Regions from separate parts of the Homo sapiens genome. Here regions 1, 2, 3, 4 and 5 are each reported to be linked to region 6. Evidence: microRNA targets listed by miRTarBase, many of them from high-throughput screens and not tested one by one. Region 6 holds a microRNA gene; each other region holds the end of a gene's coding sequence. Distances are between the middles of the regions.
What was found. The annotated mature microRNA hsa-miR-4747-5p reads AGGGAAGGAGGCUUGGUCUUAG and lies in region 6 at 2,012-2,033, shown strand. An mRNA with a match to its seed (bases 2 to 7 or 8) in the 3' UTR can be bound and repressed. Matches are read on the target gene's strand: a 7mer-m8 pairs with bases 2 to 8, a 7mer-A1 pairs with bases 2 to 7 and ends in A, and an 8mer does both.

Region 1 (5,109 bases), not on the chromosome of region 6:
TTGTGCCGAGTGGAACGAGTGGCGGTGCCTCTGGTGGGTGATGGACTCTTACTCCGACATGGGTAACTCGGACAGCTTTGGACAGGACGAGGCGGGCCCTGGCAGGAGACTGCGGATGTCCAGGTGACAGTGGATGCCAGTTCAAAACCAGCACTGCTCTCCTCCCGCGCCCAGGAAGAGCCCAGAGGCCCGGGGTGGGCGCTATGGCAGGAAAGAGGGAAAAGGAGGAGGCAGGGCGGGCAGGGGCGGCCCCAGATGTGGCAAACTTGGCGCAGCAGCGCACGGGCGGACAGGGCGGAAGGCCCGCGTCGGGCTGGGAGATGCGCCCTGCCCTGGCCCGAGGACGAAGGAATCCGAGCTGGGGGCCTGGCGCAGAGGGGAAAGGGGGGCGCCAGGGTGGTGAGCGAGATGGAAAGAGAGATGGCAGGAAGCCGGGAGGAGCGCGCGGGGGAGGAGACAGCCGAGGGGAAGGGGAAGGGAAAGGGGCGGGTGGGAAGGGTGGAGAGCTGGAGACAGAAGGCGAGGAGGGCCGAGGGGAGGAGAGAGGAGAGGAAGGGTGGGGAAAGGAGGAGAGGAAGAGAGGACTAAGAGGGGAGCAAGGCGAGGAGGCCGCGGCGGGCGCAGCGGGCACCTGGGCCGTGCTGCCCCCGCGAGCAAGGCGCCGCCATTCCGCTGCTCGGGGCGCCGCCGCCGCCGCCACCGCGCCCAGGGGCCATGCTCCCGCCGCCCCCGCGCCAGCCGCCGCCCCAGGCGCGTGCGGCCCGCGGCGCGGTGCGCCTGCAGCGGCCCTTCCTGCGCAGCCCGCTGGGCGTGTTGCGGCTGCTGCAGCTGCTGGCCGGCGCTGCCTTCTGGATCACTATCGCCACCAGCAAGTACCAGGGCCCCGTGCACTTCGCGCTCTTCGTGTCCGTGCTCTTCTGGCTGCTCACCCTGGGCCTCTACTTCCTCACGCTGCTGGGCAAGCACGAGCTGGTCCCCGTGCTGGGCTCGCGCTGGCTCATGGTCAACGTGGCGCACGATGTGCTGGCGGCCGCGCTCTACGGCGCCGCCACCGGCATCATGAGCGACCAGATGCAGCGCCACAGCTACTGCAACCTCAAGGATTACCCGCTCCCCTGCGCCTACCACGCCTTCCTGGCGGCCGCCGTCTGCGGCGGCGTCTGCCACGGCCTCTACCTGCTTTCGGCGCTCTATGGCTGCGGGCGTCGCTGCCAGGGCAAGCAGGAGGTGGCGTGAGGCCGCCCGCGCCCGCCGCGGCCCCGATCGGGGCGGGGGAATCCCCGGAGACCAGCCTCCTTAATCCCTTCCCCCGCCGCCGCCCCGCGCGGGTGCGCCCTGGCACCCTCTCCCTGCCCTCCAGCGTTTCCACTGTCGCCCGCGCCCGGGAACCCTGACGCTCAGCTCCCGCCCGACGGCAGCGCCGCCGCCGCCCAGAATCCCAGCCCAGAATCCCGACCGCCGCGCCGGACGCGCCGTCTCCCGGGACAAGCGCAGGCTGCGATCCGAGGGGCTGACACACACTCGCAGACGAGCCGCCCCGAGGCGAAACCTCGCGGTTCCTCTTCCCTTCCCTGCTGAGACTAAGACGTGGACAGGGGCCGCGCAGATCCGGGGGAGGCTCCCAAATTGGAACCAGGCTTCTGGCTGCCCCCTTCCCTCCCGCCCCGTGGTCGGAAGAGCACTCCCTTCCCTGGCCCCTCATCCAGCCTCCGGTGCTGTAAAACGCAGGCGCTGGGCCGCGGGCGGAGCTGAGGACAGGCCTTGGCTGGTCCCAGGATGAGCGACGAGTTTGGTTTTAGCTGGGGATTGTGCTGGCATCCTGCGAAGCTCCTCCCAGCCGGTCTCTCTGTGCTCGGTTGTCTTGGGGTGGGGCCCATCCGCCGAGGTGGGGACCGATAGGAGAAGCCGGTGGGTTGTACCCTTACACTTGTGGAGTCTCCTCTTGCCTCTACCTACTCCGCCTTTGTCCTTAAGGTTTTTGCAGGCCAGTGCCAAACACACACTAACTGTCCTGGCCTCTCCGTGACACAAGTCTCTTCCCAGCCTTCCTCACAGGCTTCTGCCGCCCCCCTCATCTCCACCCTCCCCCATATCTGTTTGCATTAGGAGTTCCACGACCATGGTGGAATGTTAAGGTGAACCCCACCCCTTCTTACAGATGGGGACCCAGAGCCTGCTCTTGGGAACAGCCAGAGTAAGATTGGAACCCAGACTTGCAGTCCAGCGCTGTTTGCATTAAAAGGGTGGGTGAGTCAGGACCCCTGGCTCAGGAGCCGCCTCTCCTAAAAGAGGGTTTCAAGGCCAAATGGGTTTGTCAACGGTGCTGTCTCCCTTTCTTGGAGATGCTCATTAGCTTATCAAAGACTGAGAAGTCCCGCTGTTACAGAAATAATTTAGTTTGCTGTATTAACTGCTCCTGGGCCTGGAGCAGTATTCCCACCTTAAGATTCCCAGCATCCCTGTGCTGTCCCGGCTCTCATTCATGCCGAAGGGCCCAACCCATTGGCTGTGTTCTGTTTGAAGATTTGGGGGGCGCCTTCTCTTTCTTCCCCAGGGAATTCTCTAGCAGAGGGAGGGGACCCACCCCAGTGAGGAAGTAGATTGCTGCCTCTAGCCAGAGACCTGAACTGGGGAATTTGAACATTCCTTTACATTGTTGGAGAAATGAAGCCAAAGTTATTCAGATGGTTTTCCCAGGCTAAAGGAAAGTCACCTGCAAGAGATCCCGGCACTGATCTGGAGCAGCTGACAGGGTGGGTCTCCCTTACCAAAGAGAAGAACCACTCTCTGGCGCTGGGGTGACCTGCTGGCTGGGCCTGTAAGGTAAGACGCTTCTTGGTTTTCTGGAAGGGGTCCTGGGCATTTGAATAAAAAGCACAGAGCCTACTCCTTTTCCAGAAGTTAAAGGGTTTTTATTCAGAGCAAGTTGGAGAGGTGACGGTAATAACCACAATATCTACAGAGTTGTGAAAATTCAACCTTTTTGCTAAATCCTTCAATGGTCTGCTCTTTTATTTTTTCTTTCTCTTTTGTTTTGTTTTTGAGGCAGTCTTACTGGGTCACCCACGCTGGAGTGCAGTGATGTGATTATGGCTCAATGCAGTCTCGACCTCCCAGACTGAAGCGATCCTCTCACCTCAGCCTCCCGGGTAGCTGGGACTACAGGCACATACCACCATGCCTGGCTAGTTTTTAAATTTTTGTAGAGACAGGGCCCCATTGTATTTTGCATGCTGGTCTCGAACTCCTGGGCTCAAGAGATCCTCCCGTCTCAGCCTCCCAGAGTGTTGGGATTACAGATCTCAGCCACTGTGCCTGGCCAGGTCTGCTGTTTGAAAAGGCTCAACCTTCTCTGGATTAGAAACTAGAAGAGGGGAGGCTGCGTGTTTTTGTGAGCTTGTTTTTAAAGCTTAGGTGCACAGGTGTTAGCTTTCTCTGTGGAGGCTGCAAAGGTGTAGTTTCAGGGTGTGTGAAGCATGAATGTAGTTCTAGATATGTTGCCATCAGAGCACCTATGTAGCTCTATTATATGGTTGGCACGTCTCAAAGCATTTTATAGGTGTCCATTGATTCTCTCAGTAACCCTAATGAGGTGGGTTCTAATGTCATTGCCATATTCCAAATGAGGAGGTTGAATCCCAGAGAGGTTAAATACCTTGCCCAAGGTCTCCCAGCTAATGAGTGGTAGAGGTAGGATTTGAACCCTGGCAGCCTGGCCTCTTCATGACCAGGCTATACTCTATATAGTAGGGTATCAATACATGTTAGATACTGTTAATGTAGCTATTTTTTAAATTGTGGTAAAATATACATAAAATTTACCATCTTAACCATTTTTAAGTGTATAGTTCAGTGGCATTAAGAACATTCACAGCTAGTCGCAGTGGCTCATGTCTGTAATCCCAGCACTTTGGGGGGCCGAGGCTTGAGACTAGGAGTCCCCTCAGCCCCAAGTGCTGGTGCAGTGAGAGCCTGGGGTGAGACACTTGGGGTGCTTTGGAAGCCCTTTGACTTTGGTTCTCCTGTTGCAGGTTTCCATGTTGCTGAGGCCATGGAGATTCCCAGAGCTGGTCACACCGACCGCTCTCAGGGCCCGCTGCCCTGGGCTGGCAACACCATTCTGGCCTTGGCCTGCAGAAGCTTTCAGAGTCTTCACTGGCAGTAGGGGGAGATGGGGAGAGGAATGATCTCTGCCCAGCCCCTTCCTTTCCAAACCATGCAATGGAAGAGCCCAGATGGGTGAAGATTGATTTTGCCTTAACTCAAGAGAATTCCTGTTCTCCTTGTGCTATGATTTGGACACAAGATTCTGGATACCTGGAACTTAGCTGTGTACTCCTGTACCCTAAACAGTGGATTTGAGTTCCAGCGTTTATTCTTTTTTCCTTTTTTCAGATCACCATCTAAGTTACATCTTTAGCTCAGGTCCATCCTTCTCAAGATCTCCTTCTTAGCCCCCCAGCCCCTGGTGCTGTCTGTGGTCAGGTGACCTTACTCAGGAGCAGATATCTCCTTGGCCGCCATGGAGCCTCATCCATCCACACGTGCCTGTAGCATTCCAGAGCTCACTGCCCTTCTAGATGTGCCTTCCCGCTTGGCTTCCAGCGGCTTGTGCTCACTCTGTCTGCCAGGTATGAGAAGAACACGTAAGACCGCCACCACACTCACCCTCCCTCAAGGCCCTGTGCCATAGGGGTGGCCACCCGACCTGCCCCCAGAACTTTTGGATACTGGAGGCAGTTGCATAGGTCTCCCTCTCTGGGCACCAGGACTCAGTCCAGCCCAAGACTACTCTGGGCAGCTCCCATCCCAGTCTGGGGCCATTTGCAGACTCAGGAAAGGATTTCTACAGTGTTCTATAAAAGCCAAAAGAGAGAGTGGGTTTGGGAAGAGTGAGGGTGGTTGGGGAGAGGGGACCGATGTGCCTCATTGTTTAGTGGTGATTACAAATATGCTTTTCTGGATAAAGTTTGGTTGTTTGCTCTTGGTGTGTGTGTCTTCTGTCCTGGTCCTCTGTAGCGTCCCTCCATGTGAGGTCCTCCCATTCTATCTCATTGTGCCTCACGCCCTGCTGCTGGCCTCCTTTCTGCCTCTCTGGCTTCCTCTTTC
Region 2 (4,549 bases), not on the chromosome of region 6:
GTTCTGACCTCATCGTTATTCTGGCAGAGTATACTCTGAAGCGCTGGCTTATTTTGGAGGGGATGCAAAGTTTTCTCCCACCTACCCTGTGGGGCAGACTCAAACATAATTCTTTGCTTTTTTCTTCCCCCTTTGCCTGACTTGCAGTTCGTCTAATGATTGAAAATCCTTACGAGACCCGCTCTGACAGCTTCTACTTTGTTGACAACAAGCTGATAATGCACAACAAGGCTGATTATGCCTATAATGGAGGCCAGTAAGTGCTGCAAGAGTAGATAGGGGAGGTGCTTTGCCGCGGCCACAAGATCCTGGCACACGGAGATGATCGAAGCTGCAGTTTGTCAACACACATCTGGAACCTGGCCCCAGGAAGCCAAGGCTGGGGTGGCAGTTTCCTGCGCGCCAAAGGAGCTGCCAAACAGTGCTGTGTTTTCTTCCCCAGTATTTTTTCTTCCCTTTTTTTCCTGCCCCGTAGGTTGCAGAGGTACTATAGTAAAGTAAAAGGTTAGGATAAGGGTCCTGGAATCCAGATAAAAAAGTTTATTTTCCGTAGTTCTGGCTGCCTGTTGGTTGTCTTGACGACCAGGCATAGCTGTGCCTGGTGAGAAGGCTCTGGCCAGGCCCACCAGCAGGTCAGCAGCTCTTAAGGTTCCTGGGTGCTGTGGGAAGCTGAAAGGTAGGCCTCTTCCAGGTAGCTCCTCCTCTCACCTCCGGCATTGCCATCAGCGCAGTCTGCCCTCGGTCTGTGTGAAGTCTTAAACCAACTGGAAGACACTTGAAAGGGTGGGGAGGGAGGGAGGTGCCAAGAGTGGAGGCACCAAGGAATGGGTGATGCTGCCAAGCTGAAGGGTCTGCTTTGTGGAGAGGCTGCTGCTCTGTCTGACTTCCAGGGTCTCAGCCAGCCCTCCTGGGAATAGACCAAGTTTTCAGCCTGGCAGTGCCTTCTGTTCCCATTTTGGAGGACAGACAAGCTTGCTCCACATCTCCTGGCTCCTCCCTTCTGAGTCTCATGAAATAGAATGAGTCAGCTCTGCTCATGGAACAGTAGTATCTCTTGAGGCCAGAGCAGGTCTTGTATTTTGTTTTTTTATTTCCAGACTTCTTTCGGGGAGGTTTTATAAAATGACAGTGGTGTTCCCAGCATATGTGATATGTGGTTAGACTTCTGATAGTATCAGCTTCCAGGGGCTAATCTGGCTTATGTTGGGAGGATATGCTTACGAATCAGCAGCAGCTTTCTAAAGGAGAGATTTGACTTTTCTCTGCACTGCACAGCCTGGAGGATTGGCTTTTGATGGGGATTTGCCTCCGAAGCTCTTTGTACATTTCTTGTTTAGGAGGGTTTTCCTATCTACCTTTCTACTGAAGTAGTTTCTGGAACTTTCCTGGTGGATCAGAGTTACGTAATGCAGTCTGAGCCTTCAGACTGCTAGTTAGAATTGTTTTAGGTGTTCAGAAAGGGCAAAATAGGCTGATGTGGCCTGTCAGAGTGATGTGTTCTCAAAAAAGTTCACTTGCACATCTGTGGGCTGCTTTTGTCCTCAGACCCTTAGTGGACAGACTCCACAAACCCTCTGATGAGACGATTGATGTGGCCAGGGTCCAGTTAGCATCAGTAGAAGGATGTCACTAGGAAAGGCCCAGGTATCTGGTAAGTGACTGTGAGGTGTCACAGTACCTGTGACAGGAGAGTGTCCTGATGTGCTTGGGAGAAAGGCCGTATGGGGGCCAGGGATGGAAGAGACAGTGTGTGGCCACAGAAATTCCTGTCCATCCACCACCAGTGCTGCTCCCTGTGTGGGCTTTAGGGCGAGTGGCCCCGAACCTTGGCCCAGTGCTTTGTCCCAGGCCAGAGTCTTGGCAATGCCACATGCTGGCAGCTTTCTCACTGAGAAGGTCCTAGCTTACCCCTGTGTGCTGGCCTTGGATTCAGCCCCGAGAGAGGGGAGAGACCATTCCTCCTGTGGAGTGGGTTCCTTATCACCAGACCGGCCACTCTCAGAACTGGCGTCCACTGTAAATCCAGGTGCCTTACGTGTGGCTCTGTCCCTTATGCTGCAGGGGAAAGCTGCATTGCCATTGTTCCCACCTCCTCACTGGCAGAAAGATGCCAGGGCTGTTAGCACTGTCTCCTCACCTTCTGTTTCTCATTGTGGCTCCTCAAATGGGATTTGCATGTTCCTGTCAAGCGTAACAACAATCCCTTCTCTCTTTGACAGAGGCCCAGGTGGGACAGTTTCTACTATTTGATATTTGAGTATTATCTGGGATGTGGTTCTGGAGCTGCCCAGAGCTGTGCTTAGTAGAGTGTGTCTTGGAAACATGCCCCTGGGCACACTGTATCTGCTACATTAGTGGGCTATCTCTTATCTGCAGTGTTCGCTTTTGCTAGAAAGAGGATGTGGAGGAAGGAGGAGGTGGGCAATCTGGCTTGAGTTGTGCTGTATCCTCTTCCTTGTTAGCTTGCCTTAGTCTCACTGGAGACCATTTGCGGATAGTGCTTGGTCCATGCCCAGCAGGACAGGGCTTTGCTGCTTCTGAAAGTCTGGTGTTCTGTATCTGGGGCTGTGGGTTCCTGTGTCTAGCTGCTCAGGAAATCTTGAGAAGCATTCCACTCTGGGGTGTAAACCAGTATGAGTTTGAAATTCAAGCGTTTGTACCTGAGTTGGGGAGAGAATTGCAAGGCATACTTTCTCTGAAAGTAACAGAACCATTCAGGCTGCCATGTTATTAAGGAATCTGAACTGTTGATAGCAGTTACCTTGTGGGTGATACAATGGGAGGCGGCAAAAAAACTACCTGCATAGGAGACCCTGCCCTTTGTCAAGAGCTGGGAGCACATTTCATCAGAGTAGCAGGCCCACCTGGTGCCAGAGGGCCTGCCCCTCCTGCTTCTGTTCCTTTGCCTTGCAGTCTCCTGGAGAGAGCCTCTCTTTTCCTGTACAGCCTTTGGGCCAAAATGCCCTTCTAGCTTCTCCAAAGAAGATCCGAGTTTATTTCATTCTATGTTTTAAGAGGTAAAAGGACATAACAAGTGAAAGAAGTTTTGGGCTAAAGTAGGCTATGTCTCCTTATGTATTACTCAATACTGTTTTGCAGAGAAAACATTTTTCAAGCATGTGCTTCCTGAAGACACCTCAGTCTTTGGGCCATTTGATTTCCAATACATAGGGTGGAAGAATGTGATTTTGGGGCTGACCATAAACTGGAAATTTGTGAAATGGCAGTGATTGGGCAATCTTCAGTTTATTTTTTCAGTTGAAGTGGAACTCATTTCTGGAATGGATTTAATAGGCTGTGTCTAATGTACAAACTGGGTGAGTCCTGCCTTAGTGTGTCCTGCCCCACCGGTACGCTTCCAGGATACTCTTTTCCCCTCTGTAAAGTCACTTTCTTCTGATGGCCAGTGTCACTATGATGTCAGTGAGGTCTGGGGATGAGGACAGTGTGTCCTGAAATTCACAGGACTGACTCCTCACCCCAGTGCACGAGGATTCCTGTGGCATCAGGTGCTGCTGTACCTGGTGTAGGAGCCTAATCATTGAACCATTGTGTTACTCACATTCCATGTCACAGAACATATCAGCCTCAAGAAGGATTTGGTGGAGGTGGATTTACCACTGGTTTTACAAAGGACCGTGTAAAGTCATTGAAGTTGTGAAAGTCTATTTTTTTTCCTGTAAATCTATTTTTTACAGAATATAAGAAACATCAATGACCTGATCTGTCCTTCCTCCTCCTTCCCGCTTCCCCCAAAATCACATTCCAGTTTTTATTGTCTTTGTGTCCAAAGTAAACTAGGTGACTTATTTGTATAAAATGTTATTTTGCCACATGAGACAGTAATAAAAGAAAGATTTTCACAGTACGTCTCCCTCGTCCTGTCTCCTGATTGTTGGGCCCGTTGTGTTGCTGAGGGGAGCAGGGGCGAATGGGGGCTCCAGGTTTCTCTTACTTTGGCTATTATGTGGCCCTTCTGTAAGTAGTTGAACTAGAGTATAGCTGGCTTCTAGGGTGATTGAGGAATTGTACTGGACTTTAGGCTTAATATTTTTGCTTTATATTTTCCCAGGGTGAGTGGCTTTGTAAATTGAAAGTTTACATGCATGTTTTAAAGGTAGGGTTTTTTTTTTTGAGATGGAGTTTCGCTCTTTTTTCCCAGGCTGGGATGTGATGGCATGATGGTGGCTCACTGCACCCTTCGCCTCCCGGGTTCAAGTGATTGTCCTGCCTCAGCCTCCCAAGTAGCTGGGATTACAAGTGCATGCCACCACGCCCGGCTAATTCTGTATTTTTGGTAGAGACAGGGTTTCCCCATGTTGGCCAGGCTGGTCTTGAACTCCTGACCTCAGGTGATCAACCCGCCTTGGCCTCCCAAAGTTCTGGGATTACAGGTGTGAGCCACTGTGGCTGGCCATAAAGGTAGGCTTATTAAGAAATACTTTAACTACAGTAAAATTTACCTCAATTAAGAGTATTGATGCATTTTGACAAATGAATACTTTTATTACCCATCACAATCATGATATAGGACATTTCCATCGTACCC
Region 3 (5,109 bases), not on the chromosome of region 6:
GCCATCTGCTGTGACCTTAGCCTCCTCTCTTGGAGCCTCAGTTTCCCCATCTATAAAATGAGGAGGAAATACTGACTAGGGCCATGATTCTTAACCCTGGCTGCTCACTAGATTCACATGGGAGGGTTTCAAACAATACAGATGCCTGAGCTCCACACTCAGAGATGTTAATAGAATTGTTCCATGGCGTGGCCGGTATATTATTAGTATTATTTTTTTTTTTGAGACGGAGTTTCACTCTGCTGGAGAGACCCTAGGCTGGAGTGCAGTGGCGTGATCTCAGTTCGCTGCAGCCTCTGCCTCCTGGGTTCAAGCAATTCTCCTGCCTCAGCCTCCTGAGTAGCTGGGATTACAGGCACACGCCACCACGCCTGGCTAATGTTTTGAATTTTTAGTAGAGACAGGGTTTCACCATGTTGGCCAGGCTGGTCTCAAACTCCTGACCTCAGGTGATCCACCCACCTCGACCTCCCAAAGTGCTGGGATTACAGGCGTGAGCCACTGCGCCCGGCCCGGTATATTAATTTTTATAGCGTGGCAAATGATTCTAATATAAAGAGGACTAAATTAATCCATAAATGGGTTTTAGTGTTAGGAAATTCCCTGGAAGTATGTAGAATTCTGTGCATAAACCCCCAAAGGGTCTCCCTCTGTCACCCAGGCTGGAGTGTAGTGGCACAATCACAGCTCACTGCAGCTTCCACTACCTGTGCTCCAGTGATCCTCCCTCCTCAGCATCCCCCCGCCCCCACCCCATAGCTGGGACTACAGGCGTGCACCACCACACCGGCTAATTATTATTATTATTTTTTTATTTTTTTGAGACGGAGTCTCACTCTGTCCCCCAGGCTGGAGTGCAGTGGCACGATCTCGGCTCACTGCAAGCTCCGCCTCCCGGGTTCACGCCATTCTCCTGCCTCAGCCTCCCAAGTAGCTGGGACTACAGTCGCCCGCCACCACGCCTGGCTAATTTTTTGTATTTTTTGGTAGAGACGGGGTTTCACCGGGTTAGCCAGGTTGGTCTCTTATCTCCTGACCTCGTGATCCGCCCGCCTCGGCCTCCCAAAGTGCTGGGATTACAGGCGTGAGCCACTGCGCCCGGCCCTATTTTTACATTTTTTTGTAGAGATGGGGGAGGGGGTCTTGTTATGTTGCCCAGGGTGGTCTCGAACTCCTGGGCTTAAGTGATCCTTGCGCCTCGGCCTACCAAAGGGCTGGGATTAAGGCCCGGTTTTTAAATATAAATAAAATGAGAACTTAATGCTCGGGTGGAGAACAGTGCCACCTGCCGGTTTCACTTTGCATTAGCAATATCTAAATATCTGCCAATGCCATATAATGCAATTCACTGTTTATTGAGCACCAACTCAACATGCGAGGCATTGTGATGCACCCTTTAGGACATGCAGAGATAAGAGCTCCTTTCCCCATGAAGATGGCAGCCTAGAGGAGACAATGGGCATGTAGGTAAAACCTTTGATCCAAAGCAGGCAGTCGATATGGTCCCATTGAGGGTCTGTGGGAATACAAGAAAAAAGCCTGGGGCCAGGGCTGGCTTCGTGGTTGTGCAGCCTGTGCTTGGAAGGCCCCTGCACTTGGTTTCATCATTTCCTGTGGCTGTCTTGAAGTTCTTTTTTTTTTTTTAATCCCGTGTTCAGTCGAATTGAAATTCTTGAATAATTTTTGAACAACGGGCCATTTTGCACTGGGGCCCACAAATTATATAGCTAGTTCTACCTAGAGTAGTTTGGGAAATTTTGGAAGAGGCGACACAGGACCTGGCAGGGCAGTAGTGGAGGGAGAGGAAAACAGGAGGCATATGGTAGTGTGGAAGTGGGGGTGGGATCCTTAGGCCTGGGTGACTGGGTGGTGTGGGGGAAGGAGCTAGAGGTGGTGCTGCAAGGCAGGTGGAGAGGGAAAGGAGTTTGATGTTAGATGGCTTCAGACTCAGTGCAAGGAAGACCTCCAAGGACAGTTTCAGCAGCTGGAACTCAGAAGCTAGGCCAGGGCTGGAGCTTTGGTCACAGACTTCCAGATGGATACCTTGGGGACACCAAAGGTTATAGGATCCCCTGAGATGGGTGAGGACTAAGACAGAGCTGTATGGCTGGGTCTGGGCTTTTGGTCCAACCTAGATTATTGGCTTCTGGGACTCCTGCCTTGAGGAGTGGTGGAGGAAGACTTTGGGGGCAGGGCTGGACGATGAGCGCTTGAGCCCCAATTCCCCATGTGGTGCGCTATGACACTCTTCTCAGCCTCCTCCCTCCTGGCTGCCTGCTTCAACACCACCATGGACGGTGAGTCAGGCGCTCATTTCAGGGACATTTCCCATTCAACTCATTTGCTGCCTTCCTCAGCCAAGATTCACCTTCAGGGGCCACAGGCTTCTTCCTCACCCCTCACAGTGGGTTGCAGCCTGCTGATGGCAGATGGCAGAACTTAGTCAAGACTTTGGGAAGGCTAAAGAACATACCCCATTTCCTCTCCTCTGCGTATTGTTCGTTTCTTTTTTCTCATGGGACTTTCCATACCCTGGGGGAGGAGTTTTACAAGAAATGAGCTCTTCCTTAGGAGGGCAAGCTCTTCTCCAGAGGGTTAGAACCTAGAACCCACATTTCAGACCAGTTTTCCCATCAGGCACCACCAGAGGCTGGTGCAGGTAGCTGGCACCCATGATACTTATCTGTGTCCTTGATTCCAATAGCCCAAGCCAGTGTTCTGCCTGGTTTTTTTTTCCTTCCCTATAAAGCACAGACTGGGTAGAGTGGTACCTAGGGTGGGTAGGCTGGTGGGGAATAGATTGTGATTCTGTCCATCAGCCCCATGCAGAGAGGCCCCCCTCTCAACTACATTACTGCCCAGTCAATCCCAGGAGTTCTGCCCAGGGCTATCCTGGGAAAGCTTTGTTTTGAAAGGGTCCCGTGGTCACCTCTGGGCCTGGGGTGCACCCTTGCTTGGGATGGAGAGATAGCTAGTAGGGTAACAACCCCAGGGCAGGGACAGGGACTCAGGATGCCAGCTGCCTCTGCACCCTGTTCCTCCTCTAGAAAACGTCCAAAAGGTAGGCTCTCTGCTCCATCAGACTTGTGGTTCTTTTCTTTCTGTGCAGGTCCCCTCTTTTGTGTGTTGGTGCGAGGGTTGGGGGAGGCACACTTGGGGAGGTGGCTCATACAGACCAAACTCTGCCTTGGATAGGATTGATTTTAATGCAGCTGTAGAATCCCTGATCCTCAGGACTGCGTCCTGCTGGGCCTGTGGGAGAAGTGACTGGGGGGGACAGTTAAGGCGGCAAGACCTCATCACTGTCCAGGCACCTGCCCAGCCACCAAATCTGTGGACCAGGGAGCAAACACAGGCAAAGGTACTATGCCTGGCTGCAGTCAGAGAGAGTCTCGGGAGGAGCAGGTCTTTGTGCTCTAGGGCAGGACACAGTGCTCTAGGTGGGAACTGGTGCCCCAGGTGGGACCGAATTCCCCAGGTGAGACTTAGAGAGACCCGGTGCTCCAGGTGGATCTAATATTCCAGGAAGGACCTGGTGCTCCAGGGTCCTGATGCCCCAAGAGCTTGCCCCCTATGCCTGGATGTGTGAAGCTGTGTGTTTTCTCTTCAAGAGGGGACACAGATGCCTGGAGGGTAAATGTCCCAAACTTGGCTCCTCGGGGCATGTAAAATTGTGTGTGAGAGGCAGGGAGAGCTGAAGAGAGAAAAGGACAGAAGGATAGGGACACGCACATAGGTCTGTAGACTAAGTACTGAGGGGGAAGGGAGAGAGAGAGAGGTTTAGAGACAGAGTGAGAAGAAATGAAGACAGGGAGAGCCATACACGACGGACACAAAGACAGCACCACTCAGGTCTTGTCTTCCTGTATGTGTAAGGACAAGGGAGGGAGTGAGCCGGGTAAGACCCACCAGGCCCGGTTTCTAGGGTGAGCCTTCAGCTGCCCTTCTGCAGCAAAGGGGCAAGGAAGCAGGGCCTAGAACCCAGAAACACGTCCCCGCGCCTGGCGCGGGCGCAGCCCTCCAGGGTGGGCAGCCGGGGCTACCGGGCGCGCCTAAGTCTGGATGAAGAGGTGGAAGTTGGTGCGCGTGAACTCCTGATGGATGCTCTCCAGGAGCGCGTCGGCGTCGGTGGCGGGCTCGGGGACGCCGGGGTGACCCGGCCGCACGCTGTATTCCGGGGTGTAGGTGAAGGAGAAGGCACTAGGGTAGAAGAGCCCGTCGGCGCGCACCAGGCTCATGGGGATTGTGATGGGAGCGCGCAGCCAGCGCCAGTCGCTGCAGAAGGCCGCCACGTCCGGCACCACGCACACCAGGGACCGCGGGCTCCTGGGGGTGGAGCACCAGGGTGAGGGCTGCGGCGACTCCGACGACGCGTGCACCCCCTTCCCCTGCTCCCCGGGGCCCAAGAGAGGCTGCCTCACCACCCCGTACCTGTACATGGTTTCTGCCTCCACGTCCCCAAACCACACCTTGAGCCCCGCGTGGAAGTTCTCTCCGTGGAGCTCCAGCGTGGCCACGTCGCCCCCGCCGCTCAGCTGGGGGAGGGTGGGACCAGGTGAGGTGAGAGAACCAAGTAGGGCGGGAACCCGCTGCCCCCCACTCACTAGCACCACCACTGCCCAGTGCAGGCAGGGTCCCCCTGCCCAACGCCCCTAGCGCCCGGCTTCACCTCTAGGGTGCTGATGAGAGGCACCGGAGTGACCGGCTCCAGGGTACACGCCAGGCTGGTGCTGAAGGAAAATTCCACCGACTCGGTGCCGATGATGGTCCAGCAAGAGCTGTCGTTAAGCAGAGCCCTGTTCGCCTCCTTGGGGCAGGGAGAGGCCTGGGAGGAGACCCAAGGGGACGAGGCCGAAGCTTCTCATGGTGGCCACCAGTGTAGGGAGCCAGCATGGCGCGTGGGCTTCTGCGTTAGACCGAACTGGATACTAATCCTAGGCTCTGGGGTTCACTTGTCCCCTCAGCTTGGACAGTGCCCTTAAGTTCTCTCACTTAGCGTTAAGAAAGCTTGTTGAGCTAGCTGATTTCTTCTTTCTTCTTTCTTCTTTCTTTTTTCTTTATTTTCCTTCCTTCCTTCCTTTTCTTTTTCTTTCCCTTTCTCTCTCTTTT
Region 4 (5,109 bases), not on the chromosome of region 6:
AATACATATAACAGATCTAATCCATTAATATAATGCAATCCTAAATTGTTTTAACCTTATATAATTAATGAGTGTAATTCATGTTAAAAGACTAGAAATTTTTAACCTAAAAAAAAACAAAGAAAATACTAGATATTTTTAAAATAAAAATGTATATATAATCATCTCAATAGATGTAGAAAAATATTAGACAAAATTAACACCTATTCCTGATCAGTCCTCTAAGAATGCAAGGAACAAAAGGGAACTTCCTAAAACTGATTAAGGACGTCTATGAAACATCTACAGTTTACACCATACTTAGTGGTGCAACACTGAATGATCTCTTCTCAAGATCAATTTCAAAATAAGGATATTGTTCTCACTACTTTTATTTCTCATTGAACGGGAGGTTCAGGCAAGGAAAAGAATAAAAGCATTGGAAAGGAAAAGATAGAAGTGCTTCCGCTGGCACACAGAATGATTATTTGTGTAGAAAATCTGATGACATCTACAAAAAAAGTTACTAGAAGAAACAAATAAGTTTATCAAGGTTTCAGAATATAAGGTGAATATTTAAAAGTCTATTATATTTCTCCATACTAGCAATAAACAGTTGGAAATTAAAATTATCAATGATAATTCCCATGTACAGTAGCGTCGAAACTATGAAGTATATATGGTAAGCTAACAAAATATGTAAAAATATCTGTAAGAGAAAACTGCAAAACATTGCTCAGAGAAATTTTAAAATACCTAAATAAATGCAGAGACATACTTTATTCAAGAGTCAGAAAAATCAATATTTTTAAGGTTTCAATTCTGCCCAAATCGATTTGTAGATTCAATGTAATCACAATCAGAATTCCAAAAGAGTTTTTGTAGAAATTAGTGAGCCAATTCAAAAATCAATATGGAAAATATAGTGACATAGCTCAGCCAATGTAACTTTGCAAAAGAAAAATAAATTTGAAGGACTGTCACTGCATGATTTTAAGATTTATTATAAAACTACAGTATTCAAAATAATGTGGTGGTGGTGTATAAATACGCAAATACAAAAATACAACAATCAGTGGAATAAAATAGAGAGTTTAGAAATAATCCCATGAATATACAGACAACTGATTGGTGATAAAGGTGCAAAAGCAATTTAGTAAAGAAAAATAGTCTTTTCGACAAATTTACATTTGTCGAATTAATCCCAAATAAATCATAGACCTCAGTATAAAACCTGAAGCTATAAAATGTCTAGAAAAAAATAAAGGAGAAAATTTTTGTGACCTTGAGTTAGTCAATGAGTTCTTACAAACCACAGCAGAATAATAAAAATGGACTTCATTAAAATAAAAAACTTCTGCTTTATGAGTATATTGTTCAAAGAATGAAAAGACAGGCTGGGCGGTGGCTCACACCTGTAATCCTAGTACTTCGGGAGGCCAAGGCAGGCAGATCACTTGAGGTCAGGAGTTCAAAACCAGCCTGGCCAACATGGTGAAACCCCATCTCTACTAAAAATACAAAAACTTAGCCAGGCATGGTGGTGGGCACCTGTAATCCCAGCTACTTGGGAGGCTGAGGCAGGAGAATCACTTGAACCTGGGAGGCGGAAGTTGCAGTAAGCTGGGATTGCACTACTCCAGCCTGGGCAACAGAGTGAGACTCCCTCTCAAAAAAAAAAAAAAAAAGACAAGACAAGAAAAACATTTCAAGATGCATATCTGATAAAAGGTTTTTATCCCAAATATATAAAGTTCTCAAACTCAACAGTAAGAAAAATAAACCAAGTAAAAATTCTCAAAAGATTTATACAGTTACTTTATCAAAGTTACCTAATACAGATGGTAAATAAGCTTATAAAAATTTGCCTGGGGCGGTGGCTCACGCCTGTAATCCCAGCACTTTCAGAAGCTGAGGTGGGTGGATCACCTGAGGTCAGGAGTCTGAGAACAGTCTGGCCGACATGGTGAAACCCCGTCTCTGCTAAAAATACAAAAATTAGCTGGAAGTGGTAGCGGGCGCCGGTAATCCCAGCTACTTGGGAGGCTGAGGCAGGAGAATTGCTTGAACCCAGGAGGCGGAGGTTGCAGTGAGCTGAGATTGTGCCACTGAACTCCAGCCTGAGCAACAAGAGCGAAACTCTGTCTCAAAAACAAACCAACAAACAGAAATTTGTAGGATACACAGATTAAAACTATGAGGATATACCATTCGATATCTACTAGAATCATTAAAACTATAAGACGAACCATATGAAATTCTGGCATGGATGAGATGGAACTGGAGCACTCATACACTGCTGGTAGGAATGAAAAATGGTACAACTTTGGAAAAGAGTTTGTCAGTTTCCTAAATAGTTAATCATACACCTACTGTGTGATCCAGACGTTATACTCCTAAGTATTTAACCAAGAGAAAAGAAATCCTATGTTCATACAGACTTGTACACAAATGTTCACAGCAGCTTTATTTGTAATATCCCAAAACTAAAACAACCCAAATGTCATCAACAAGTAAATGGGTAAATGAATTGTGGTATATCCATACAAGGGAATATTCAACATTTAAAAGAATGAATTCATACGAGCATCAAGATGGAGACATATGAATCTCAAAATAATTATGCAAAGTGAAAGAAGCCAGACAAAAAAAAAAGACATACTATATGATTCCATTCACATAAAACTACAAAATGCAAAATGAAAGCCGATTGGTGGTTTTCTGGGGAGGAGTCATCAGGAGGAGCATTGTGACACTTTGAGGGATGATGGATATGTTCACTCTCTTAATTGTAGTATGCATGTTCTCCACAAGGTGTGAAAACTTATCAAATAGTACACTTTAAATATGTTCAGTTTATTTTATGTTAATTATATCTCAATAAAGCTTTTAACAAAAGCAAACATCTCTTGCCTACATAAGGATGACACAGCTCTTAAAAAAAAAAAAAGATTCCTGCTAGATTGTGTGCAGCAAAATAAAAAGGCTTCCTTTAAAGTAGAATAGCCTGTGAAGAGTGGGTGGAAAGGAAATAGAAGCCTAAAAATAGAAGATATATTTCTAATTCCATCTGTTTCTATTCAGCGATATTTGCATACCTGGCTTAGTTTGTTCTAGATTGAGTGTCTTCATTTTTTTTGTCTTGTATGTTTCGGAATTATAGCATAGCAAAACAGAGTTGAGAAGAGTTCATCTACAAAAGGTATGTTCTTTAGGGAAAGAAATTCTATTCTTACCTCTGGGCCACACATCCCATGATTCTAACAAGAACTGTTGTGAAGGGTTAAATCTATTAATCTGTCCTCTGGTAGAAAAAAAAATGAAGAAATAATAACTGATTCAGGAAGTGGTAACAGGTTGTGGATTAGCTTACAGAAAAGACCACTCACTTACTAATTACTTTCTTGGGCTCCCCACTTGTCCCAAAATGTGTGTGTGTGTGTGTGTGTGTGTCTGTCTGTCTGTCTGTCCGTAAGTGGTAGAGTCTGGAGATGGACCACAGTTTAAAAACCAAGGATTGATACCTTTTTTAAAGTTAAGAACATGAGTTTCTTGATTTCGGAATGGCCTCTGTCCTTCTTTGTTTCTTCACGTGCACTTTTTCCCAGACATATTTCCCCTTTTTGCTCTCTGCCTGCACTTGAGCAAGTTCTCCATGTTCTGTCTTTCATGCAATTTTAGGAGTGTGAGGGGAAGGTGATAATGAGGTAAAGAAGACTGAGTTCAGAGGGTTTTCAAGCTTGAAGAGGAGTCAAATTTTAAAATAAAAAGGGGAAAATGGACTTCAGGCTGGCAGGGAAGCTTGGGACAAGCTAGGTGAAATAATACAGGTAGCTAGAATCAAAAATGTTGACATAAAGGTGCCAGGCTCCTGGAACCCCAGTTTCTGCAAAGGAGTTCTGCAGCCAGCTAAATGACAGTTTTCTGGGCTCTCATGTTTGGCACCCAAGTGACAAAGAATAGCTTAAATTCCAGAATAAAACTCAAAGACTTTTTTCTTTTCTTCCAGAGCCTTCAAATTCACTGTGCTCTTAGGTTTGCCTTCTTCTGACATATACTGAAGGCAGCTAAAATGCAGTTTTCCGCATAAACAGCTCCTCGTTGTATATATGCACAGGTACCTGAAGGGTATGTCTGGGAGACAGCGCCTCGGACTCTAAATCTGCAGGTAGGAAAAAACAAAACAAACCAACAAAAAAACTTAGGTTTACTGCCACCTTGTTTCAGAAACTTAGCTTTTGAAACTTTTTGTCTTAAAGCCTCCAATCAGTAATAAATGTGGGAAGGAAAACTCAAGAAAATGTCTGAATGGTTAATGAGTAAATCTTTTTGTGAAAGAGGTAAGGAAGGAGACTTTGAGAAATTCCCCCAAGCTTCTCTCTGGCAAGAAGAGGACATTGGTGGGATGCAGGCAGTGACCTCACTAGCAGGTTCAGCAAAGAATAGGAAACTGACGAGAGAGGCATCAAAAAGAATGGGAAACTTACAAGTGGGGCATCAAAGGAGAACCGTCCTCCCAGAGCCATGGGTAGCTGGGGTTCCTCCGAGACAGCCCCATCCAGAATGGAAAACTGGAATAGGAAATTGCTTGCTGGATGAAGTCCTGTGGGGAGTAATGTTTCTGAGTTTGTGGAATCCACATGGTGGTTTTAGAATCTGAAAGTCAGTTAGTGTTGGATCCACAAAACTAAAGAACCAAAAGGTATCTTTGACATCCCCTTGACTGTTTTACGGAAACACTTACTGAAGGCTAGAGATACTACAGAGCCTGTCCGTCCAAGGTCATACACAAAATTGGTGATCAGACTAAGCTAAAAAAACAGACATTTTGGCTCTCAAACAAGAATTCCTCCAGTGACAGTTTAAACCAGATTAATTTCCCTATCAACCAATACTCCACCCCAACAAATATCCATGAACACTCACCAGATCAGCTGTGCTATTAATTTTCAGCAACTTGGCATCCAAAGACAAGCACTTCTCTTGGCTCTTTTCCCAGTTAAATGAGCCCGAGGAAAATAGGTAACAGTTTTCTCCATGCCAGATCCAGTCTTGCGGACAAGGAGCTGGGAAGGATAGTATATCTCATCAGTCAGTTATGTTTGTGTAAAAGCAGTACTGCAGTTCTTA
Region 5 (5,109 bases), 2.5 Mb from region 6:
CCACAGAGTGGGACACGGAGCCCAGAGCAGCCCCAGTGTTTCCACGGAGGATGTCCAGGAGCTCCTCTGGGGGACACCTCCCTGGGGGACAACCAGGGATGTTCTGGGATGTTCTCTGAAGATTAAGGGTGTGTCCCGTGGTCACTAGGGCCTGTGCTATTTCCACAGGAGGCTCAGCCTCCTCTCCAGATGCCGGGTGACTCTGCAGGTCCTTCCGCAGGGAGGTTGGGGCCGTTCTCCCTGAATCTGGGGCTTAGCATCTGAGCAGCTCAGGTCACGGGATCCAGGCCGCCCGTGGGAAGTGTCAGGTGGGGGTGGCCAGGCCCCTCTGCTCTCGGAGGCTGCCCTGGCGGGTGGGGACAGCTGGCCAGCCTGGAGCTGGCCCAAATACCTTCTCTCTTCCAGCGTCCTTCGACCTGAAGCAGCAGCTGCTGCTCAACAAGCTCATGGGGAAAGATGAGAGCACCTCACGGAACCGCCGCTCGCTGAGCCCTATCCTGCCCGGCAGACACAGTCCTGCGCCCCCACCAGGTGAGCCCCCACCCCCTGACATGAGCCCAGTCCCAGGGCAGCGGGGCTGCGGCACCACCCGGCGACTGCTCAGTCTGAACCCTCTCTCTGTTCCAGACCCTGGCTTCCCCGCCCCGAGCCCACCGCCAGCTGACAGCCCCTCCGAGGGCTTCTCTCTCAAGGCCGGGGGCACAGCCCTCCTGCCCGGGCCCCCAGCTCCCTCGCCACTGCCGGCCACACCACTCAGCGCCAAGGAGGACGCCAGCAAAGAAGACGTCATCTTCTTCTAAAAGGGCCGTGACTCAAGGTGCAAGGCCCCTCCCTGCCCTGCCCACCCTTCCTGCTCTCTGGGGACCCCCATGGGGTCACCATGCCCACCCAGCTGTCCCCTCCTCTTCCCTAGCAAACCACTGATGACCGCCTGGCAGGGGCCAGCCTGTCGGTGCTCTGGGCCTTGCAGCTGTTTCTGTAGGGTTAGCGGTGGTGCCGGGGTCACTTTCTGAATCTCTTTTTTTTTTTTTCAAAAAGGAAAGTTTTTAATGGAAAGTTGAGCCAGAACTAAACCAGGGAGCTGTCTGAAATCATAGCACCCCATCCGGGTGGCGGGGAGATCAACTCCGAGCTGTTTTTCCGAGGCAGTGAGGAACGGTGCCGGCTCTGCACGGAGCTGAGGACAGGACAGACCTTGCTTTGAGAAGGAGCTGCCGGCCGGGGCCACGCTCCACAGCCGCCGCGCGACAGTGGAGCCAAGGGTTAGGGCACCAGGAGGGGCCAGGTGGCGTCGGCAGCATCTGTCCCCAGAATCAGGCAGAATCCACTTCCCAAACAGAGCCCCACGCAGGTTCACCATGAACCTCAGGGTCAGGGAATGAGCCAGGCACGGGGGCATGGGCAGAGAGGGCCACGGGGCAGGGCCCACTGAGGGAACATCAGTGGCCCTCCAGTCAGGTTCTGTGGGTTTGGAAGCCCATCGTGAAAGGGGCTGACCTTTGCCCCTTTTTACTTGGCATTGGTTTTGAAACCAGCTGTTTCCCAAACTCTGCTTCCCAAGGGCAACCGTTGCTGTTCACACGCTCAGCCTGTCTGGGGGAGCGGGCCTCTAGCTTCAGCCAGGGCGGGTACACACCCTGGGCACAGGGTCCTCAGCCCCCGGGAAATGAGCTCCCAGGGCTGGCGTCCCACCTTCCAGGTGGGGGCTGGCACATCACAGACTGTCGAGAGCGCCATGTCCCAGGGCATGCAGAGGATGCACCTAGAGACGTTGCAGCAAGTGGACAAGTGGCCGCTGTGCGGGCCCCTCGCTTGTAGTGAGCTGTTGCAGCTTACGGTCCGTTCCCTGGAGGGGTGGAGGAAGGAGGTGTTGGGCAGCATCAAAGGTGCTGGGACATCCCAGGGTGGTGAGATCCATCCACGATCCAGCTCCGGTGGAGAAAGGGCCCATGTCAAGCCTTGTTCTGCACCCCAAGCATTGGTGGTAGGACTGGGTCCTGGCTGATCGTCCTTGTTCCCAGTGGGGTACATGTGAGCCCCTGCCAGGGCCAAGTCCTTCTCCCGAACCCAGGGTCCTGGGAACTGCAGATCCCGGGGGGATTCAGCCCTTCTCCCACTGTGCTGGCAGAGGCACTCCTGTGACGCTGAATACAGTGAACAGGGACATTCCCGCCACTCGGGGACAGATGGGCACAAGGGAGGGGAAACTCCATCAGGAAGTGCTCCCCTGGGCAGAGGCGCCCACTGGGTGCTGTGGGCTCAGGAGGGGGCGGGGCAGGAGCTGGTGCCAACCGGGAACCAGAGCCCCACAGCCATACAGCCCATTGGTGACAAGGTCCTGAGAACACAGTGGCCAGGTGTCCCCAGGCTCCTGGCCCCTCCGACGACCTCAACTCTGCCCAGCCCGGTCCCTGGCCATCAGCGACGCTGTCCGCCCCCCGTCAGATCCCATGTGTGCCATGTTTATCATCAGTGTTTTGTATTTTTGTACTGAGTATCGGAGCACTTTACAGAAGCTGACTGTACATTCCTGTTCTGTTGTGAAGAGAACATTCCCAGACCCTGGCACCCTCCTGAGCCGGCGTGTGCCGGTCCAGCCCTCCGAGATGCCACAATTCCTTGGATGGGGGAGAAGTTCAAGGAATTTCTGCTCGGCCACGCGGTGGGAACCCCGCGTCCCCGCCATGTGGCAGAGGGGTCTCAGTCGTGCTAGGCATCGGGCGGCAGCGCCGACAGCCCTTCCCTCGCCAGTGCCCCTCGGCCACTCCTGGGTTGGAGCCCGATTTTATTTGTAAAGTTGACAGTCGAGCAAATGTTCCTATTTTCGTGGGATCTGCACACGTCTTTGTCAGTTGTGGTCATGATCTTAGTCACCTGCTAATTATTTTTACAATGATTACAACATTTCCTCACTGCGGGATATTTCTGACCCGCTTTAGAACTTAAGACCTGATTCTAGCAATAAACGTGTCCGAGATGAGCGGTGACTGGCGTGCACGTTCTTGGAGGTTTTATTTGAGGATTTTCTTCTGCCCAAACGTTGCTGCAGGAGTAGCAGGTTCTGTTGGGGGCTCCCCATGGCTCCTGCCCCTCAGCTCGCTCACCTGCCCTCCGTGTCCTGCTTAACGCTCTGAAGACCCCTTCAGGTCCAGTCCCCAGGAGTTGTTGGGGGTTTTGTTTTTGTTTTTGTTTCTGTTTTTTTGGTTTGTTTGTTTTTTTGAGACAGAGTCTTGCTCTGTCGCCCAGGCTGGAGACCAGTGGCAGGTTCTCAGCTCACTGCAACCTCTGCCTCCCGGGTTCAAGCACTTCTCCTGCCTCAGCCTCCTGAGTAGCTGGGATTACAGGTGTGCACCACCACGCCCAGCTAATTTTTGTATTTTTTTAGTAGACATGGGGTTTCGCCATGTTGGCGAGGCTGGTCTCGAACTCCTGACCTCAAGTGATCTGCCCGCCTCAGCCTCCCAAAGTGCTGGGATTACGGGCACAGGGCAGGAGTGGGGCGTGGAGGTGCCTGTGGAGGGTCCTGCCCACCGGGTACACTTCAGGCTTTGGTGGCGCCTCCACGAAAATCTTTTTGCTTTTAATCCACAATAACCGCAAAGGCTGGAACTTTCACTTCCTCCATCTGGGGTGAGAGGCAGCTTGGCCATGAGTATGAAATCATCATTTCCACCTGGTCTGAGTCCCGGTCCAGTGAGGCGAGGACCCTGCTGTTTCAACAGAGGGTTTCCCATCACAAGGGGACTAGGTGTAAAGTCGATCACTAGCTCACTAGGAAGCGCAAAAAGGGAACTCTCAGGCAGCACTGTCCACCAGGAAGATGATGCAGGCCACGTGTGGAATTTTTCATTTTTAGTAGCCATATTAAAAAAGTAAAAGGAGGGCCGGGCACAGTGGCTCATCCCTGTAATCCCAGCATTTTGGGGAGGCGGGGGCTGAGGCAGGAGGATAGCTTGAGCCCAGGAGTTCAAGACCAGCCTGGGCAACATAGTGAAACCCCTTCACAGAAAAATTAAAAAATTAGCCAGGTTGGCCGGGCGCAGTGGCTCACGCGTGTAATCCCAGCACTTTGGGAAGCCAAGGTGGGCAGATTACGAGGTCAGGAGATCGAGACCATCCTGGCTAACAAGGTGAAACCCCGTCTCAACTAAAAATACAGAAATTAGCCGGGCGTGGTGGCGGGCGCCTGTAGTCCCAGCTACTCGGGAGGCTGAAGCAGGAGAATGGCGTGAACCCAGGAGGCGGAGCTTGCGGTGAGCCGAGATTGCGCCACTGCACTCAGCCTAGGCAATAGAGCGAGACTCCGTCTCAAAAAAAAAAAAAAAAAAAAAAAAATTAGCCAGGTATGGTGGCGTGCACCTGTAATCCCAGCTACACAGGAGGCCAAGGCAGGAGGATTGCTTGAGCCTAGGGGTTCAAAGTTGCAGTGAGCTATGATCGTGCCACTGCACTCCAGCCTAGGCAACATGGTGAGACCCTGTCTATAAGAGCTTAAAAAAAAAAAAGGAAATTTGGGGGATAGAAAAAAGAAATGAAATTTAAAAAAAAAAGAAAAAAGGGCTGGACGCAGTGGCTCACGCCTGTAATCCCAGCACTTTGGGAGGCCGAGGCAGGCAGATCACCTGAGGTCCGGAGTTTGAGACCAGCCTGGCCAACATGTTGAAACCCCATCTCTACTAAAAACACAAAAATCAGCCGGGCGTGGTGGCAAACACCTGTAATTCCAGCTACTCTGGGGGCTGAGGCAAGAGAAGCGGTTGAACCCGGAGGCGGAGGTTGCAGTGAGCCGAGACTGCACGATTGCACTCCAGCCTGGGGGACAACAGTGAGACTTCGTCTCAAAAAAAAAAGAAAAAAAGGATGTAATTAATTTATTACATTTTTATTTATTTTTTTGACATGGAGTCTTGCTCTGTCACCCAGGCTGGAGTGCAGTGGCACGCTATCTTGACTCACTGCAACCGCCGCCTCCCAGGTTCAAGTAATTATCCTGCCTCAGCCTCCCGAGTAGCTGGGATTACAGGCACCCACCATCATGCCCGGCTAATTTTTGCATTTTTGTAGAGATGGGGTTTCACCATGTTGACCAGGCTGGTCTTGAACTCCTAA
Region 6 (4,000 bases):
TCACCCCGTTGGGATGCCAGACTTCCCTCATTCCTCACAGGTCAATGAGTACGTCGATGCTCGGGACACGAACATGGGGGCGTGGTTTGAGGCGCAGGTGGTCAGGGTGACGCGGAAGGCCCCCTCCCGGGACGAGCCCTGCAGCTCCACGTCCAGGCCGGCGCTGGAGGAGGACGTCATTTACCACGTGAAATACGACGAGTGAGTCATGGCAGGTGGGCGGGCCTGGGTATTCAGGCTCTGTGACGCGCATCCTTGGCTGCGGGTGTTCAGGCCAGAGCTTGGCACTGTCTCGAGATGGTGATCAGGATCTGGGGCCCCATCCTCGAATTCCTAACAGCATACGAGGCTGCCCACTTGGGGACTAGCCTGGGGACCCGAAGCCGGCTGCCCCCTCCTGTGTCTCCGCGGAGGGTTCTGCTCGATCAGTGGCTGAAACTGCCACCCCATCAGTTTTTCTGTTTTATTCCATCTTCCGGGTTTGTCATCTCTCCCTCATCCCCACCCCTAACGTCAGTCTCCAGTCTTTGCACAAGTGTTTACTGGGCACTTCCTACCTGCCAAGTTCGGGGTCCACACACCAGTGGACACAGATGGTGGCTGCGTCTGTCCGTGCTGCCATCGTGAGATTTCACAGACGGTGTGGCTTAAACACGGACATTGGTTGACTTGCTCACTGCAACCTCTGCCTCCTGGATTCAAGCGATTCTCCTGCCTCAGCCTCCTGAGTAGCTGGGACTACAGGTGCCCGCCACCACACCCAGCTAATGTTTGTATTTTTATTTTATTTTATTTTTATTTTATTTTTTCGAGACAGAGTCTTACTCTGTCACTCAGGCTAGAGTGCAATGGCGTGGTCTCAGCTCACTGCAACCTCCGCCTCCCAGGTTCAAGCGATTCTCCTGCCTCAGCCTCCCAAGTAGCTGGGATTACAGGTGTGTGGCCACCACGCCTGGCTAATTTTTGTATTTTCAGAAGAGATGGGGTTTCACTATGTAGGTGAGGCTGGTCTCAAACTTCTGACCTCGTGTTCCGCCCGCCTCAGCCTCCCAGAGTGTTGGGATTACAGGTGTGAGCCACTGTGCCCAGCTTATTTTATTTTTTTGAGACAGTTTCACTCTGTCCCCCAGGCTGGAGTGCAATGGTGTGATCTTGGCTCATTGCACCCTCCATCTCCCGGGTTCAAACGATTCTCCTGCCTCAGCCTCCCAAGTGGCTGGGACTACAGGCGTGCACCACTGCGCCCAGCTAATTTTTGTTTTTGTTTTGTTTTTGAGACAGAGTTTCACTCTTGTTGCCCAGGCTGGCGTCAATGGCGCGATCTCGGCTCACCGCAACCTCTGCCTCCCGGGTTCAAGCAATTCTGCCTCAGCCTCCCGAGTAGCTGGGATTACAGGCATGCGCCACCACGCCTGGCTAATTTTGTATTTTTAGTAGAGATGGGGTTTCTCCATGTTGGCTGGTCTCCAACTTCCGACCTCAGATGATCTGCCTGCCTCAGCCTCCCAAAGTGCTGGGATTACAGGCATGAGCCACCGTGCCCGGCCATGCCTGGCTAATTTTTGTATTTTTAGTAGAGGCAGGGTTTCACCGTGTTGGTCAGGCTGGTCTTGAACTCCTGACCTCAGGTGATCTTCCCGCTTCGGCCTCCCAAAGTGCTGGGATTACAGGCGTGGGCCACCTTGCCCGGCCTCTCCTCTTGTTCTAAAGACACCAGTCCTGTTGGATTGGGGCCCACCCTACTGCAGTGTGATCTCATCTTAATATGATTTCATCTGCAAAGGTTCTATCTACAAAGACCCTGTTTCCAAAAACAATCCTATTCGTGGGTACTGGGGATCAGCCTTTGAACATCTCTTTTTGCAGGGGACACGGGCAACCCATAACAATTTTGTACCTGGAATGTGCCTTAATATACCTGTGTGTTCTCAACACCAGCATATAAGCCTGTTGGGAGGGGCCTCTGCACACTGTCGGGAGGGGCCGTCCCACCTCGGCTCGTTTCCCATTGAGGGAAGGAGGCTTGGTCTTAGCACGGGGTCTAAGGCCCGGGCTTTCCTCCCAGCTACCCGGAGAACGGCGTGGTCCAGATGAACTCCAGGGACGTCCGAGCGCGCGCCCGCACCATCATCAAGTGGCAGGACCTGGAGGTGGGCCAGGTGGTCATGCTCAACTACAACCCCGACAACCCCAAGGAGCGGGGCTTCTGGTACGACGCGGAGATCTCCAGGAAGCGCGAGACCAGGACGGCGCGGGAACTCTACGCCAACGTGGTGCTGGGGTGAGCCTCGCGTCCTGGGGCGAGCCCTTCCTCTCTCCTTTCCTCCCCTCCCGGGGCCCCCGGACTGGCTTTGAAGCCGTCCAGCCAGCGCTGTGTGTGCGAGGCCCTTAGCCTCCGGCCTGGCCTTCCTGCCTCCCCTCTGGGGTCTGTTCCTGCTCACTGCTGAGCATCTTTCTAAGACCGACCACCTTGTGCCCCTGAGTGCCTCTGCCCAGGGAACTGTCTCTGACCCCCAGGCCCTGACAGGCAGAGTTGTCAAACTTCCTTTTTCTCATGGTGTTTTTTTTATCGCTCTGTTGCCCAGGCTGGAGTGCAGTGGTTCGATCTCGGTTCACTGCAAGCTCTGCCTCCTGGGTTCATGCCATTCTCCTGCCTCAGCCTCCCGAGTAGCTGGGACTACAGGCGTCTACCACCACACCTGGCTAATTTTTTTGTATTTTTAGTAGAGACGGGGTTTCACCGTTAACCAGGATGGTCTCGATCTCCTGACCTCGTGATCTGCCTGCCTCGGCCTCCCAAAGTGCTGGGATTGCAGGCAGTGAGCCACCGTGCCTGGCCTCAAGCTTTCTTTTTCTCTCTTGTTTGTTTCAAATTTGGTGAATAGGTCCCATTCACAGGGTCAAAATAGAAAGCACCCAAGACCACACATGAAGGTTCTCCCTCCTCTGCCTGGTCACCCAGTTCCCCTTTTTGGCGACATCACTGTTACCAACTTTCCAGGGACATTCTGTTCATAAACATACACGCCAAACCACACCGCTTAGGAGTTGGCAAACTGCAGTCCACAGGCCTGCTGTGGTCCGCTGCCGGCTTTGACTAATAGTTTTATTGGGACGTGGTCACACCCATTTTTATCTTATTACCTGTGGTTGCTTTTGTGTTATAAGAGCAGAGTTGTGTAGTTGCAACAGAGACTATGCGGCCTACAAAGCTGAAAATCCTTCCTATTTGGCCATTTGCAGAATCATTTTGCAAAGCCTGTTCTTTCTCCCTTGCCTCTTTGTGTGTGTGTGTGCGTGTGTGTGTGTGTGTGTGTGTGTGATAAAATGTATGTAACAGAAAATTTACCTTTTTTTTTTTTTTAAAAGACAGAGTCTCCCTCTGTCGCCCAGGCTGGGGTATAGTGGCATGATCTTGGCTCACTGCAGCCTCCGCCTTCCAGGTTCAGGTGATTCTCCTGCCTCAGCCTCCCAAGTAGTTGGGATTACAGGCGCCCGCCACCACGTCTGGCTAATTTTTGTATATATATATATATTTAGTAGAGTCTGGGTTTCACCATGTTGGCCAGGCTGGTCTCGAACTCCTGACCTCAAGTGATTCGCCCGCCTCAGCCTCCCACAGTGCTGGGATTACAGGCATGAGCCACTGCGCCCGGCCAAAAATTTACCATTGGAACCATGTTTAAGCGCACAGTTCGGTGGCATTAAACGCATTTACGTTGTTACGCAACCATCTCCAGCACTTTGTCCTCTTCCCAAACTGAAACTCTGACTCCATGAAACACTCACTCCCTAGCCCCTGACACCTCTGCATCCTACTTTCCATCTCTGTGAATCTGACAACTCGGGGGACCTCCTAGGAATGGGATCACACAGGATTTGTCCTTTGCATCTGTTCACTGACGTCACTGAGTGTGATGTCCTTGAGGTGCATCAGGCTGTAGCCTGGTCGGAATTTCCCTCCTTTTTGTGGCCGAGTGATAGTACGTGACGTGTTGTC

Region 1: the mRNA of MARVELD1 is a reported target of hsa-miR-4747-5p. Seed matches in the 3' UTR shown: 7mer-m8 at 1,303-1,309, 7mer-m8 at 1,566-1,572, 7mer-m8 at 1,651-1,657, 7mer-m8 at 1,685-1,691, 7mer-A1 at 2,036-2,042 and 7mer-m8 at 4,586-4,592.
Region 2: miRTarBase lists UNC119B as a target of hsa-miR-4747-5p. Seed matches in the 3' UTR shown: 7mer-m8 at 3,739-3,745.
Region 3: the mRNA of RBPJL is a reported target of hsa-miR-4747-5p. Seed matches in the 3' UTR shown: 7mer-m8 at 3,759-3,765.
Region 4: the mRNA of OLR1 is a reported target of hsa-miR-4747-5p. Seed matches in the 3' UTR shown: 7mer-m8 at 3,670-3,676.
Region 5: the mRNA of ARHGEF18 is a reported target of hsa-miR-4747-5p. Seed matches in the 3' UTR shown: 7mer-A1 at 1,328-1,334, 7mer-A1 at 1,553-1,559 and 7mer-m8 at 2,738-2,744.

The regions. Positions count from the first base shown.
Region 1 is chr10:97,713,163-97,718,271 of GRCh38, forward strand. MARVELD1 (MARVEL domain containing 1) reads left to right here and starts at 568. Exons shown (of 2, transcript NM_031484.4): 1 at 568-2,823; 2 at 4,032-4,988. The coding sequence starts at 715. The coding sequence ends at 1,236. RefSeq lists an enhancer at 880-929 and a silencer at 1,240-1,459.
Region 2 is chr12:120,719,773-120,724,321 of GRCh38, forward strand. UNC119B (unc-119 lipid binding chaperone B) reads left to right here. Exons shown (of 5, transcript NM_001080533.3): 5 at 148-3,868. The coding sequence ends at 260. MIR4700 (microRNA 4700) reads left to right here and starts at 3,421; the gene lies at 3,421-3,494.
Region 3 is chr20:45,315,903-45,321,011 of GRCh38, reverse strand. It overlaps RBPJL (recombination signal binding protein for immunoglobulin kappa J region like), which reads right to left. Exons shown (of 12, transcript NM_014276.4): 10 at 4,670-4,825; 11 at 4,432-4,535; 12 at 3,188-4,326. The coding sequence ends at 4,053. Among named protein-coding and RNA genes, the nearest start is that of MATN4, 10 kb to the right of the region's middle.
Region 4 is chr12:10,155,881-10,160,989 of GRCh38, forward strand. It overlaps OLR1 (oxidized low density lipoprotein receptor 1), which reads right to left. Exons shown (of 6, transcript NM_002543.4): 4 at 4,906-5,045; 5 at 4,467-4,582; 6 at 2,421-4,141. The coding sequence ends at 4,000. Among named protein-coding and RNA genes, the nearest start is that of OLR1, 14 kb to the right of the region's middle.
Region 5 is chr19:7,469,499-7,474,607 of GRCh38, forward strand. ARHGEF18 (Rho/Rac guanine nucleotide exchange factor 18) reads left to right here. Exons shown (of 29, transcript NM_001367823.1): 28 at 406-531; 29 at 628-2,980. The coding sequence ends at 800. Among named protein-coding and RNA genes, the nearest start is that of PEX11G, 17 kb to the right of the region's middle. RefSeq lists a silencer at 3,657-3,706.
Region 6 is chr19:4,930,676-4,934,675 of GRCh38, forward strand. MIR4747 (microRNA 4747) reads left to right here and starts at 2,012; the gene lies at 2,012-2,065. UHRF1 (ubiquitin like with PHD and ring finger domains 1) reads left to right here. Exons shown (of 17, transcript NM_001048201.3): 4 at 41-201; 5 at 2,066-2,281. RefSeq lists an enhancer at 1-405.